4 linked regions of the Homo sapiens genome follow. The protein of the gene in region 2 purifies or fractionates together with the protein of the main gene of each other region. This does not show direct contact. Each region holds a gene or a part of one and is shown on either strand. Other genes may lie near its edges.

Region 1 (3,500 bases), on a different chromosome or scaffold from region 2:
CTGAATTAAAACAAGGCTGAGATATTTTTAAAAATTTACATATGGCAAATCCATGTTTCATTCTTTGAAAAGCAACCTACAATAGAGAAAGACTAAGTCACTGAATTAATAGATGTAACTAACATTATTTATAATGTTAAACTATATAAAAGAGGCCAGGCACAGTGGCTCACACCTGTAATCCCAGCACCTTGGAAGGCCAAAGAGGGCGGATCTCTTGAGGTCAGGAGTTCAAGACCAGCCTGGTCAACATGGCAAAACCCTATCTCTACTAAAAATATAAAAATTAGTCAGGTGTGGTGGCAGACACCTATAGTCCCAGCTACTTGGGAGGCTGAGGCAGGAGAATCACTTGAACCCAGGAGGCAGAGGTTGCAGTGAGCTGAGATCGCGCCACTGCACTACAGCTTGGGTGACGAGTGAAACTCTGTCTCAAACAAGCAAACAAGACACAGTATCAGTCTGAATTTTTAATTCTCCAGAATAACAAAGCTTAAAGCAAAAGGAAATATTCCACCTCTCCTCCTCCAAAAGAAAAATCAACAGGGTTCAAGGCACCCCGGAAGTTTCTACAGATCCAACACCACAATCTTAACCTAACACTACTACTGTCTCAAAACTTTTAAGAATCAAAGGGATTGTCTCCAATAAGCCTTTCCCAATGAAAAGCCAAATATAAAGTACTGATATAGAAATCTATACATTCTTAAAGGTAACCCAAAGATTATGCTAACTGCAATATGACAGATACGTTACCAGTAAGATTCAAACCCAGGCACAGAGCCAAATCACTCTGAATAGATATTGTGATTAACTGATTACTGAGAGAGGGTTCAGTCATACATCTCATAGATCAATAACTTGTTATAAATCTCATAACATTCCAAATCGCTGCTTGTTTTTCCAAGATTTAACATGAGCCAGTCATAAGTCCTCATAATATTAAGATTCTAGGGCTGATCCTGTCATCAATTTACTTAAAAACAACTGATAGTTGGACAGGCCTGGTGGCTCACACTTGTAATCCCAGCACTTTGGTAAGCCGAGGCAAGTGAATCATGAGGTCAGGAGTTCAAGACCAGCCTGGCCAACATGGTGAAACCCCGTCTCTACTAAAAATACAAAAAAATTAGCTGGGGGTGGTGGTGGGCGCCTGTAATCCCAGTTACTTGGGAAGCTGAGGCAGGAGAGTCTCTTAAATGCCAGAGGCGGAGAATGCAGTCAGCCGAGATTGTGCCACTGCACTCCAGCCTGGGTGACAGTGTGAGACTCCATCTCAAAAAATAATAATAATAAAAAATAACTGGCTGGGTGTGGTGGCTCACACCTGTAATCCCAGCACTCTGGGAGGCTGAGGCAGGCAGATCACAAGGTCAGGAGATTGAGACCATCCTGGCTAACACAGTGAAACCCCGTCTCTACTAAAAAAATACAAAAAATTAGCCAGGCATGGTGGCGGCTGCCTGTAGTCCCAGCTACTTTGGAGACTGAGGCAGGAGAATGGCGTAGACCCAGGAGGCAGAGCTTGCAGTGAGCTGAGATCGCGCCACTGCGCTCCAGCCTGGGCGACAAAGCGAGACACCGTCCCAAAAAAAAATAAAAATAAAAATAACTGTTAGGGCCAGGCGCGGTGTGGCTCACACCTGTAATCCCAGCACTTTGGGACACTGAGGAAGGCGGACCACAAGGTCAGGAGATCAAGACCATCCTGGCTAACACGGTGAAACTCCATCTCTATGAAAAATACAAAAAATTAGCCGGGCATGGTGGCAGGCGCCTGTAGTCCCAGCTACTCGGGAGGCTGAGGCAGAATGGTGTGAACCCGGGAACCAGAGACACAGCCAGACTCTGTCTCAAAAAAAAAAAAAAAAAAAAAACTGATAGTGCATATGAAACATTGCTTTCAATCACAGCCAGACATTTTTCCAGAATACACAAAGAACAGGCAGATAAGGTAGAACACAAAACAAACAGTGCAAACTTTTGTAAAGTCTCACAAAAAGAAACAGCTTTTTACAGCGAGGGAGGAAGGGCATAAGGGTTGAAAAACGGTTGGGTACTATGTTCAGCACCTGAGTGACGGGATCATTGTATCCTAAACCTCAGCATCACACAATATACCCGGGTAACAAACCTACGTGTGTACCTCCTGAATCTAAAATGAAAGTTGAAAAAGATAAAAATAAAGAAACAAGCAGCCTGGCCAACATAGTGAAACCTTGTCTCTACTAAAAATACAAAAATTAGCTGAGAGTGGTGGAGGGCGCCTGTAGTCCCAGCTCGGGAAGTGGAGGCTGCAGTGGGCTGAGATTGAGCCCCTGCACTCCAGACTGAGAGACTCTGTCTCAAAAAAAAAAAAGAAACAAGAAACAAGGCCGGGCACAGTGGATCACGCCTGTAATCCTAACACTTAGGGAGGCTGAGGTGGGAGAATTGTTTGAGCCCAGGAGTTCGAGACCAGCCTGGGCAACACAATGAAACTCTCTTAGTTCTGTCACCCAGGCTGGAGTATAGTGGCTCACTGCAGCCTCCACCTCCTGGGTTCAAGTAATCCTCTCACCTCAACCTCCCTAGCAGCTGGGATTACAGGCCTGCACCACCACACCTGGCTAATTTCTGTATTTTTTGTACAGACAGGGTTCGCCATGTTGCCCAAGCTGGTCTCAAGCTGCTGGGCTCAAGTGATCCACCCACCTCAACCTCCCAAAGTGCTGGGATTACAGGCCTGAGCCACCGTACGTGGCCGGAAACAGCTTTTTAAACAACTCCACACCTGTAGGTCAAAAACTTAACGAGACCAGCCTGGCCAACATGGTGAAGCCCCATCTCTACTAAAAATACAAACTCCAGCCTGGGTGACAGAGCGAACACCATCTCAAAATAAATAAATAAATAAATAAATGAACTTAACAAGGGCAGGGACCAAATCAGAAAATGCTGCAGTACTCCACAGTTTTATCCTCTTTCTACATTCTCTGTGTTCTCATCCTATTTCATAACTTAACTACTATTTAACACTCTAAAAAATACAAATGTCAAAGTAAAGTGTACTACTGTTTCTGCAAAGTGGGAACAATATTTGCTTATATGTCCACAAATATTTTTTTCCAAGGAGATCTAAGAAACAGCTAACAATGTTTGGCTCCAAGGAAAGCTGGATGACAAGGGTACAAGAAGTGGAGGGAGATTTTCATTCTATTCCCTACTGACAATTTTATATTTTGGTTTTCTGTTTGTTTTAGAGACAGGGTCTCACTCTGTCACTCAGGCTGGAGTGCAGTGGTGCAATCACAGATCACTGCCACTTCCAACCTGGTCATCTGGCCTCAGCTTCCCAACAGCGGGTACTACAGGCGTGCGCCACCACGCCTGGCTAATGTTTTTTAAATTATTTTTTGTAGACATGGGGTCTCACCATGTTGCCCAGACTAACATCTTAAATTTTGAGCCATGTGAATACAGTTTTTGTTCAAAACATTAGTATACCAATAAATAAATGC
Region 2 (3,500 bases):
CTCCGGCTCACTAAGCCCCAGCTCCCAGGTAGCTACAGGCCCACCCCAAACCCTCAGCTGACACCAGGGAATCACATTTTTGCAAGGAGAGGCACAAAAGACATGCTAGATATCCCCCTCCTCCTTTTAGCCTCACCATTCATGCAGGGTCTTGACAATATTATTGATATCCTTCTTTCGGATGTCACGGCCAATGCAGAAATCCACTTCCAGCAGCTGGTTTCGCTGGTCCAGCTTGCCCTGGATGATGTCAGTGTAGACAGCCTCAATGATAAGGTCTTCTAGTTCCCGGAGATTCCGCATCTCCAGGTCTTTCAGCAACACGGAGTAGGGGATACACTGTAGATAAGGCCATGTGATCATTATAAAAACCATCTGGCAAGCATTAGCGAAAATGCAGGTATTACTCCCATAGCCAACAGCTGCCTCTAGGCTCGGGAAACGCAGGCTAGTGGTAATTATTAATAGCTAGGGCAACAAGAGGTGGATAAATGAACCATGAGACCTAGAAGACCCAACATCTAAGAAAGCAACCTCCTGGTTCTCTGCCTCCTTGGCTTCACCCAGCCTTCAGATTTCACATGCTGCAGCATACTTGTAGAGATCCTAAAAACTTGTACCAGTGGAGAGAAAGGGAACTACTGAGTATATGCCACTCTGCCACCTTCTGGAAGCTTTCAGACTTTGCTAGATCACCATAAATCTCCAACAGATCCCAGTCACTGGAAAGAGCTGGCTACTTGCCCAGCAGAGTGCAAAAACAAACAAAAAAAACTTGCAGGCCAGCATATCTACCTATAGGTGGCCAATGGGTACTGCCAGCTCAGATGTCACCCTGAAGTTTGTATCTGTTTTCTCAGACACAACCAATATGAATTCCCCAACAATAGTTCTTTATTGGGCTGTACCAACATTCTTTACTACACTTGAGAAGTCCACAATCAGTACAAGAAAAAAGGTCAGGTCCTCATTTCACAACAAAATAGGCCTCCCACCTGAAATGCTAGGCTGAGAATCAGAAATGTGCCATTAGATCAGATAAAATGATTTCAGCAACTGAAATTGCAATCCAAGAACAAAAAAACCAAGTGCAGTGGCTCACACCTGTAATCCCAACACTTTGGGAGGCTGAGATGGGAGGATCGCTTGAAGTCAGGGGGTTGAGACCAGCCTAGGCAACATGGTGAGACCCTTGTCTCAATTTAAAAAATTTTTTAAGTTAAAAAGGCCGGGCACGGTGGCTCATGCCTGTAATCCCAGCACTTTGGGAGGCCGAGGCAGGTGGATCACCTGAGGTCAGGAGTTCAAGACCAGCCTGGCCAACGTGATGAAACCCTGACTGTACTAAAAAATATAAAAATTATGGGCATGGTGGCAGGTGCCTGTAATTCCAGCTACTCGGGAGGCTGAGGCAGGAGAATCACTTGAACCCAGGAGGTGGAGGTTGCAGTAAGCCCAGGTTGCGCCACTGCACTCCAGCGCAGGCAACAGAGCAACACTCTGTCTCAAAAAAAAAAAAAAAAAATTAGCCGGGCGGGGTGGTCCACGCCTGTAATCCCAGCTACTTGGGGCTGAGTAGGGGAATCGCTCGAATCTGGGAGGCAGAGGTTGCAGTGAGCTGAGATCACACCACTGCATTCCAGCCTGGGCGACAGAGTGAGACTCCGTCTCAACAACAACAACAACAAAAAATCTAGCAAGTCCGACATAGCAAGTTTTTCCTCCAGCATGGGCATAGTTCACTGTGTACTGAGCAACAGATTAAGCTGTTAACTTGCCTTGAGATGCCTTGCTATTTGAAAAATGTATATCTTTAACAGCAGTCTCCCCTTAATATGGCAAAATGATCATGCCACATGCGGCACCACAGCATGCCAGGACTAAGACCTGCTGAGTCAATCACTTCTGGGCATACTTTTCCTGTATGGAATGGGGAGTACTTTTCTACACCATTTTATCTTTTCCTCTGTCAAGCAAATTTTATGCATTTATGATGTGACTCTCCTATGTGCAGCTGGGACTTCCTTCATTGATGTCAATGAGACAGCTGACTTGGGGTAAGGAGGAAGACAAGAGAAGGCTCAGTACCGTACCTTCATTCTTGATGCCAAGCTCACGATGGTAAGATGCTTCAGCTTGTTCTGCTGAGCTGTGCTCAGTTCTGGCAGGCTCTCCTTGTTGGCTGCTCAGTCCCACCCACCACAAAAATCAAGACACAAAATAAAATTAGGATTTCTTTTATGGAATAAGCTCACCAACTCCCCAAACCAAATCTACTACTGAATCACTATCATGACTTTGCACTTATTCATTTGACAAATATTCCTGTCTTCTTTGGAAGACTATGTACTTCCAAAGAAGAAAAGACTCAGTTTCTACAAACACAGAGTTTAGTCTCCTAAAAAGCAAACAAGCAAAATGATGTGGCAATTATCTTAATGGAGTACTATTTGTGCCCCTTGTGACATTCAATTAAATTAAACATATCTTCATCGAGCATCTGTTGTGTGCAATGCTCTGTACTGAGAAGAATCAAGGATGAACAAGATGGGCTTTGCCAGGGCTGCTGCATGGCACAACTCCAGGGCCACCAACCACCTGGAGGTGTGCAACTTCATGGCCCTGGACTTGTCCTCGGTCTTACAATCAGATGTTTCCATAGCTACAAATCCAAGGCAGAACTACCAGAAGAAAGGTACAAGCTACTAGAAGAGAGGAGGAGAGGGATGGGGAGGAGACAGGGGTAAGAGAAAGAGATGAAAGGGGAGGGGAGAGGGAAAGAGAACAGTATCATTTGGAAAGTACAGAAGATAAAAAGAAAGAATTCATGGAAGAGATGGAGTTTGAGTTGAGCCTTGAGAAAGAGGCAAAATTTCAATAATAACCATAAATGATAATAACAGCAAGGGCAGCAGCTGCAGCAGCTAACATAAATAGCAAGCTTTACATCTTGTGGATTGCATAGATCCACACGTACATACACACATCCAGTTCATCTTCACAACAACCCGCAAGACTCCAAGTGTCCTCAATTCCTTAACGATAATTCTGGATTCCAAAAAACTATATCCAAACTGATTTTTTCTTAAGCATGGTGCTGAAATTCACCTGGTGGGAATTTCTAACCTGTACGGAGACAGGCTTTTTATCCCACTTGTTTCCACATTCCTCTGGGAGTGTTACATAAAAAGGCATGCGCATCATATTACCTTTTTAAAGTCCCAAAAATTCTAAATTCTGAAACATCTAACTTCGAGGAGTGTAGGTAAGGAATAATGGGCTTGTATTGTTACTCCCACTTTACAGACGAGGAAATTGAGCTGCATAAGGTTACTTCATTTGTCAACGAACACACAACTAGTAGAAGTGGAGCCAGACTGGCTACAGGCAGTCTGCTAACAGAGTCTGTGCAATGCTGCCTCTTTAGTAAGCAAGGACAGAAAAACAGAACACATTCCCTGGAACAAAGGGAAGGTCAGAAAAAAATGTGGTGTACCAGG
Region 3 (3,500 bases), on a different chromosome or scaffold from region 2:
TCTCGAACTCCTGACCTCAAGTGATCTGCCCACCTCGGCCTTCCAAAGTGCTGGGATTACAGGCGTGATCCACTGTGCCCGGCCTCTATTTTTCTTGATAAGACATTCTGAAACTGTTATGAATTTACTAATATATTACAAGCCAATCATATATTTCCTGCTACATGAGAGGATACAGTCTTAAAAACAAAAAAACATAAACCAACCCATAAAGTCCTCCTAAGTTCAGCATCAGGGAGTTCAGTTGCAAGCTTAAGATTTTCAAAGCTGATTTTCTCTCTGGGTCTTTGGTTCCATGCAAACAATACAGCGAGCTGAAACGTGGTTACCTCCAAATCATATTGACCAACTTCATTCTTAAATGTTATCTATAATAGATAAAACAGATTTTTAATAAAGAATCTCATGATGATTCTCTCTTAATATCTATGACATGAATTTATATATGAAAAAGGTTGCTGTCTTCCAGTATCCACTCTTTCACAGTAATAAACATTTTAGAAGACGTTAATGACTGCCCAGAATACACGCTCATCTCCCAGCTTTCCATGTAACAAAATGTGGCCAAGTGACTGAGTACTGGCGGATGCAAATGGAAAATGACAGAGGAAACTTCTAGAAGTTGTCCCTAATGAAAGGTGTAAGCTACCCTCACCTTTTGCTTTCTGTTGCCAGGAATACTGAGATAGTTGGGATCATGTTGAATTCTGTAGACAACGGCAGTATCTTAAGTATGATGGTATAACCAGAAGCCTATGTCCCTATCAACTTCATGAAAAAAATTCACTATTTCTGCTCAAACTTTTACATGTGAGAGAGGCAAAAATCTATTTTGTTTAAGCAATTCTGCGGAGTCCTGCTACTTTCATCCAAACTGAAAGCTGAAATAACTAACACACTATCTACTTACAATTCCATTTGACATGAGATGATGCCAATGTAATTTTCTACCACTATGATTTTTTTTGTAGAATTCTTCTACTTCCGGTATCAAGTCCTCCAGTTCAGTAGGAAGTGAGACAAAGACTTTCTCAGAACTTCTTGACCAGGCGCCAGCATTCAGAATTTTTATATTAACTGAATCAGCTATAGAGAAGAATATCAGGAATATAAAGTAAATTAACAATGGATAAAATTCAAAATAAATACAGGGTAACTTTGGGTGAAAAATCAATAAGACTATAAAGATTTTGTTAAAAGTGTCCTTTTGTTTTGAAATAAAGATCTGTAAATCTAACACACTGCTTTGATAGCTGTCTCCACGGAAATGGACTTCATAACATCTTTCGATCTATTACTGCTGAGGTTTATTTTTAATTTACTGGAAAACAAAGATATTCTTCTAAGTTTAAAAAATATATACATGTAATTATAAAATAATACCTGGTAATGCCAATTTATTATTTTTGTGCATTTCCTTAAAAGCTTGGTTCAAATCTTCAGATACTTTTATGTCCTGAAACATTCTAGCAAGCTTGTTTACATAATCCGCTGGCATACCAACTTCCTATAAATATAAACCAAAGAAGGAAGAGGTAATAAATACATAATCTGATATATTACTGGGAAAAATTTTAATAGAAAAACTAAGTCTTAAATGTTTTAATACAAAATTTTTCTCATTTATTAGAATTTTATTGTCTAATACCTATGAAATTTGCTACTTAGAAACAAAATACGGTATTACAAGGGGTCCCTGCTTTGCGCATTTTTAGTATGTATGAATTTCAGTTACCACAGTACAGTTAAATAATACCAATTCCCCAAGAACAAAGCTCAACTTTCAGTTGACACTATATAATAAATTTAACTGCATGAAGTAAAAACTTTATTTCTAGCTCTTTGATCCACAAATCATGACAAAAGTAACAATGACTAACCACAATACTTCTTTCAAAATCTATTAGTTGGCATGGTGTGTAATCCTAGCACTTTGGGAGGCTGAAGCAGGAGGATCACTTGAAGCCAGGATTTTAAGACCAGCCTGGGCAACACAGTGACACCCCCATCACTACAAAAAAATTTTAAAAGTTAGCAGGATATGGCGGCATACTGCCGAGATAGTCCCAGCTACTCGGAAGGCTGAGGTGGGTGGATTGCTTGAGCCCAGGAGTTTAAGCTCTGATTGTGTCACTGCGCTCCAGCCTGGGCAACAGAAGATCCTGTTGCTTGAAAAAATTAAATAAATAAATTTTTAAAAAATGTAAACACAACCTATTAGTCATTTGTTTATTCAGTTAAACTGCAGACAGCAAAGTATGCAGTTTCATTGCATCCTTGTCTTCCAGTAATAAACCCACATGACTACTTACAAAAAAGAATAATCAAACAAGATAATTGGCAAAGATATAAAAGTAAACAGGAAATGAAAAGTGATAATGCTGGAAATGAAAATAAAATAGAACATAAATGGAGTTATAGAAGAAAGCTGACTGTGGTAGTAAGGCTGACAATGCCAGTGTTGAGGAACTTAGTGAAAGCAAATTACCAACATAAAAGATAAAAGTGGTGAGTGACAAAAAAGATAAGATACCCTAGAAGAAGTGATCCTGGCAAAAATGCTATAAAGGAATTCTCAGTATTTCATGACACTGACAGCCCAAAAGATAAAATGCTAGAAGATCATCCAAATTACAGGGGGTGTGACAACTCTCCAAGGCAAAGAAAAGATGCTTACTCTGTCAAGTTACACAAGAAGGCAAAAGCTATTCAAACTACTCTTTATTAACAGCTTTACTGTGTCAGATAATTTATCTACCATAAAATCTACTATTTTAAAGTATACAATTTGGCTGGGCTCATGCCTGTAATCCCAGCACTTTGGGAGGCTGAGGCGGGTGGATCACCTGAGGTCAGGAGTTCAAGACCAGCCTGGCTAACATGGTGAAACCCATCTCTGCTAAAAATACAAAAATTAGCTGGGCATGGTGGCATGCGCCTGTAATCCCAGCTACTCAGGAGGCTGAGGCAGGAAAATCGCTTGAACCTGGGTGGCAGAAGTTGCAGTGAGCCAAGATCGCACCACTGCACTCCAGCCTGGGCAACAAAGTGAGACTCTGTCTCAAAAAAATATAAAAAATAAAAATAAAAATAAAATATACAGTGTAATGAAGTTTAGTATATCTACAGAACTGTGCAACCATCACCACTATCTAATTTTAGAACATTTTCATCACCCCAAAAAGAAACCCCATACTATTTACAGTCACTCGTCATTTCCCCTCCTGGCCCCAACTCCTGGAATTTGTGGATTTGCCTATTCTGGACACTTCACATTAGTGGAATCATACGATATGGTCTTTGGGATTGGCTTCTTTCACTCAGCATTATGTTTTCAAAGTTCACCTAATATTGCAGCATGTATTATTAGTTTATTCCTTTTTATCACAAAAAATATTCCATTGTATGGATAAATCACATTTTATTCATTAGCTCACTGACATTTTGGGTTGTTTCCACTTTTTGACTATTATTAGTAATCTTGCCATGAACATTTGTTT
Region 4 (3,500 bases), on a different chromosome or scaffold from region 2:
AGAGACAAATGCCTTTCCAATCTTCAAGTGGTGGCTCTTTCTCCACCTAATAGTCAGTGGACAGTCTCCAATATGGCCCTGCCGGTTAATCATTACACTCACATACTTTTATATTGGTTGATTCTGAGTGACCCCCACCCAGGCCCCAATCCTAGGAACCTCTGGCCATTCCATCCATGATTTAGCAAATAAAGAGTTAATGCCTGGCAAAGAGGGCTGAGGGGGAGGTCCTCCAGGGCTCCCAGGCTACAGACAAATCCACTGTGCCTGTACTTCCAGTCTCACCTTTTTTGGGCACTTGCTGCCACCGATAGTCCCAGTTTTGCTGTGTGGCAGCCTGGCGTGAAGCTTCCATGCCTTCCCGGCTGGAAAAGCGTCGGATATCCCAGAGTTTGATGGTCTGGTCTTTAGAGTTGGAGATCAGATACCGGGCATCACCCTATGAATCCAAAGGTGGATAGTGAAGCATCAGAGCTTGCAAATGTCGGCGCCTGTCAGTCTAGTTCCCGTTCTCTAGTTGAGCAGAAGAACTCTGGCCTCTGGCTTTACTTGCCTCTCTTCATCCAGGTGAACTCATTTCCAGCGTTCTGCCTCAGATCCTACCACCTGGCTAGGTTTTCCTTTCCTTGCCCAGGCTACTGGCCGGCTTTCCTATTCTAGCCTTAATCAGATTGTCTTCCATTTTTCTTTTTTTAATTTTTAATTAACTAATTTTTTTTTGAGATGGAGTCTTGCTCTGTCACCCAGGCTGGAGTGTAGTGGGGTGATCTCGGCTCACTGCAAGCTCCGCCTCCCGGGTTCACGCCATTCTCCTGCCTCAGCCTCTTGAGTAGATGGGACTACAGGCGACTGCCACCACACCCAGCTAATTTTTTTGTATGTTTAGTAGAGACGGGGTTTCACCATGTTAGCCAGGATGGTCTCGATCTCCTGACCTCGTGATCTGCCCGCCTCGGCCTCCCAAAGTGCTGGGATTACAGGCATGAGCCACGGCATCTGGCCTTAGTTTTTTTTTTTTGTTTTTTTTTTTAAATAAATAGAGATGAGGTCTCGCTAGGTTTCACAGGCTGGTCTGGAACGCCTGAGCTCAAGTGATCCTCCCACCTCAGCCTCCCAAAGTGCTAGGATTACAGGTGTGAGCCGCTGTACCTGACCGGTCTTCCATTTTTCTTGTACGGAAAGCCCTGCCCTGCTCCTTGAGGACTGGTGAGTACAGATGGAATTCATGTTCCCTGGCTTGAGCCCCTTCCCTAAACTCCAACTCTTACAAACCTTGGTTAATAAGGAGCTTGTCAAATTCCCACACCAGTCCGCTTTCATGCCCTCCTGGGCAACTAGAACCTTAGCGGCCTGGCTGTACAGTCCTGACTTCTGGCCCACCTTGCTGTCAATGAAGGTGATGCCATCCTGGTGTCCAGCCAGTGCACCCACAGGCTTGGGGTCATCCTCCCGCATGGTGCGTCGATCCCACACTTTGCAGATGGCATCATCTCCCCCAGAGAACAGGATTTGGGAGCTTATATCAGCAAAGGCCACTGCATTCACATCATCCTCATGGGACTCAATCTAGGCGAAAAGGAGGCCAGGATATAAGACCTCTTTCTAGGTCTTATAAAAAGCCAAAAACCAGGAGGCAGAGGCTCTATCTCAGGAGCCATACCTGAAGGGTGCGCCGGTTCTGTTCTCGGTCAAAGACATACAGGCAGCCATCATTGGCCCTGAAAGGGAAGGGATAAAGGAGGGTCCTGGAGCCATGATCGAGAGGACCAACGTGGTATATGCTCTAGAGAGTTCCACTGAGAAATCCTGCTCTGGGTCAAGCCCTTTGCTCTTTTTATACAGGAAGTGGGGGAAGAGTTAGCTGTGTTTCAAGGAGGCTTGACACCTCCAATCTCGTGCTGGGGAAATGGAGAGCAAGGGGTGAAGCAACTTGTAAATCCTGACCTTGGGAGAAGGTCTGGTTGTTCTCTGCAGCTGCCAGTGCCATCTGTGTAACAGCAGAACTCATCTCTGGCAGAACCCCCATCTTGTTATTGAGGGAAACATACCCCACAAGCACTTACCCTCCTAGTACTTCTCGTCCATCTGAGGAGACAGCAATGGAGAAGACAGCAAAGCGACGCTCATCTGGCCTAAAAGCAAGAAGGAGCTGGGTTAAGTGGACTTCCTTCAGCTTTTGTTAATCTACATAAAATCTGACAACGGTTGTAAGGCACATCCCCAGGGGAAAAAAGAAGTCTGGCTAACATGCACCATAATGCAGATGCTCAGTGAGAACCCAGAAATCATCCTGCAACCATCTATTTTACCCAGTCCTCTGGCTGACAAGATGGTGCTTCCCTCCCAGGAATGCACACAGACCCACCAGTATACTTTTTCCCCTAAACAGAACTTCCAACTCAAGAGGTTTGCTCCCAAAGAGCTTCCCTTGAGAAGTTTCTGATGAGTCTGACCAGAAAGGGAAGCCAGTACCTGAGATCCAGGGCAGTGTGTGTATCTCCCTCACCATAGATATTGCAGATATGAACTAAGAGAAGCAAGAAAAACAAGAATCTTTCAGGGATGGGGGAAGAAGAGTGGAAGTGAAGCTAGGGAAGAGATCAAACAGGGGACAAGGGTACTGGAGCACTTTGGGAGTGATTTTCCCAGGACAAAGTGAGGGATCCTGGCTCAGAGGGGACAGGCACATGGAAACCTCAGGTCCCAGGCTGGAGAGTCAGTGGAAGCCTGGTGCATACTCACTGTAATCAGACCAGCTAGAGTAGAGGAAGTGGTTCCCATCAGGGGTGAAGGCCACATCCAAGACGCTCCAGCCTACGTCGCGGGCCTTGATGCTCTTGAATTTACGGAAACGGCCATATCGGCAGTCATAGAGTCGGATTGTCTGGTCTGTGTAAGTAAAGATCAGGCAGAATTATGGGACAGTTTCCTTGTAACTTTTCTAGATTAGACATCTCCCACTCAGTGTACCTGTGGAGTCTTCCCTTTATCATGGGAAACATGGTCTGGCTAAGCATCCTTAAGCCAGGTCTGAGCTCCCCGTCTGTGGCTTTCTAGCCTCAGTCAGGGGGAATGTCCCATGTTCCAGGAAAAGATAGTTTATAGGACCAGGGTCTGGTACCTTGGCAAGCAGACATGAATATTTGACCATCTTTGCTGTAGATGCCACAGAAAGCCTTCTGAGAGTAGCTATCAGTGAAGCCCAGATCATTGGGCAAGAAGCTAGGGAAGGAGAGAGAAAGTGAGGGTGAGGGGTGCTCAGGATAAGGAGTGTCCCAATCAGCAGAATCCTAACAGAGCTGGAATATCAGAACAGTCATTCTTCCCTTTTGGCTGTGAGTGCAATCCCGTCTTTCAACCATTCCACCATCCTCTAAATTTCTACAATTTTCTACACTTTTCTACTTTGTTTACTCTCAAAGTTTCAACCCCATTTAACCTAACCTTTAATATCTCTGAGGCTCCTTTAACACCTACCCCTTCAAAGTTTAGGAGATAAG

What was found. The genes of interacting proteins can lie anywhere in the genome.
Region 1: the proteins of COPS7B (region 2) and CUL2 purify together in Homo sapiens (affinity purification with mass spectrometry; 2 studies listed by BioGRID and IntAct, with this or other methods). This does not show direct contact.
Region 3: the proteins of COPS7B (region 2) and CUL5 purify together in Homo sapiens (affinity purification with mass spectrometry; 3 studies listed by BioGRID and IntAct, with this or other methods). This does not show direct contact.
Region 4: the proteins of COPS7B (region 2) and DCAF11 purify together in Homo sapiens (affinity purification with mass spectrometry; 3 studies listed by BioGRID and IntAct, with this or other methods). This does not show direct contact.

What each region holds. Positions count from the first base shown.
Region 1 is NC_000010.11:35,083,842-35,087,341, forward strand, and holds part of CUL2 (cullin-2), read right to left. Parts: intron 1-3,500.
Region 2 is NC_000002.12:231,792,945-231,796,444, reverse strand, and holds part of COPS7B (COP9 signalosome complex subunit 7b), read right to left. Parts: intron 2,183-3,500; coding exon 2,094-2,182; intron 340-2,093; coding exon 137-339; intron 1-136. UniProt on the Homo sapiens protein: Component of the COP9 signalosome complex (CSN), a complex involved in various cellular and developmental processes.
Region 3 is NC_000011.10:108,092,398-108,095,897, reverse strand, and holds part of CUL5 (cullin-5), read right to left. Parts: intron 1,508-3,500; coding exon 1,384-1,507; intron 1,087-1,383; coding exon 911-1,086; intron 369-910; coding exon 207-368; intron 1-206. UniProt on the Homo sapiens protein: Core component of multiple cullin-5-RING E3 ubiquitin-protein ligase complexes (ECS complexes, also named CRL5 complexes), which mediate the ubiquitination and subsequent proteasomal degradation of target proteins.
Region 4 is NC_000014.9:24,117,777-24,121,276, reverse strand, and holds part of DCAF11 (DDB1- and CUL4-associated factor 11), read right to left. Parts: intron 3,223-3,500; coding exon 3,122-3,222; intron 2,890-3,121; coding exon 2,743-2,889; intron 2,528-2,742; coding exon 2,473-2,527; intron 2,133-2,472; coding exon 2,064-2,132; intron 1,719-2,063; coding exon 1,661-1,718; intron 1,567-1,660; coding exon 1,381-1,566; intron 440-1,380; coding exon 286-439; intron 1-285. UniProt on the Homo sapiens protein: May function as a substrate receptor for CUL4-DDB1 E3 ubiquitin-protein ligase complex.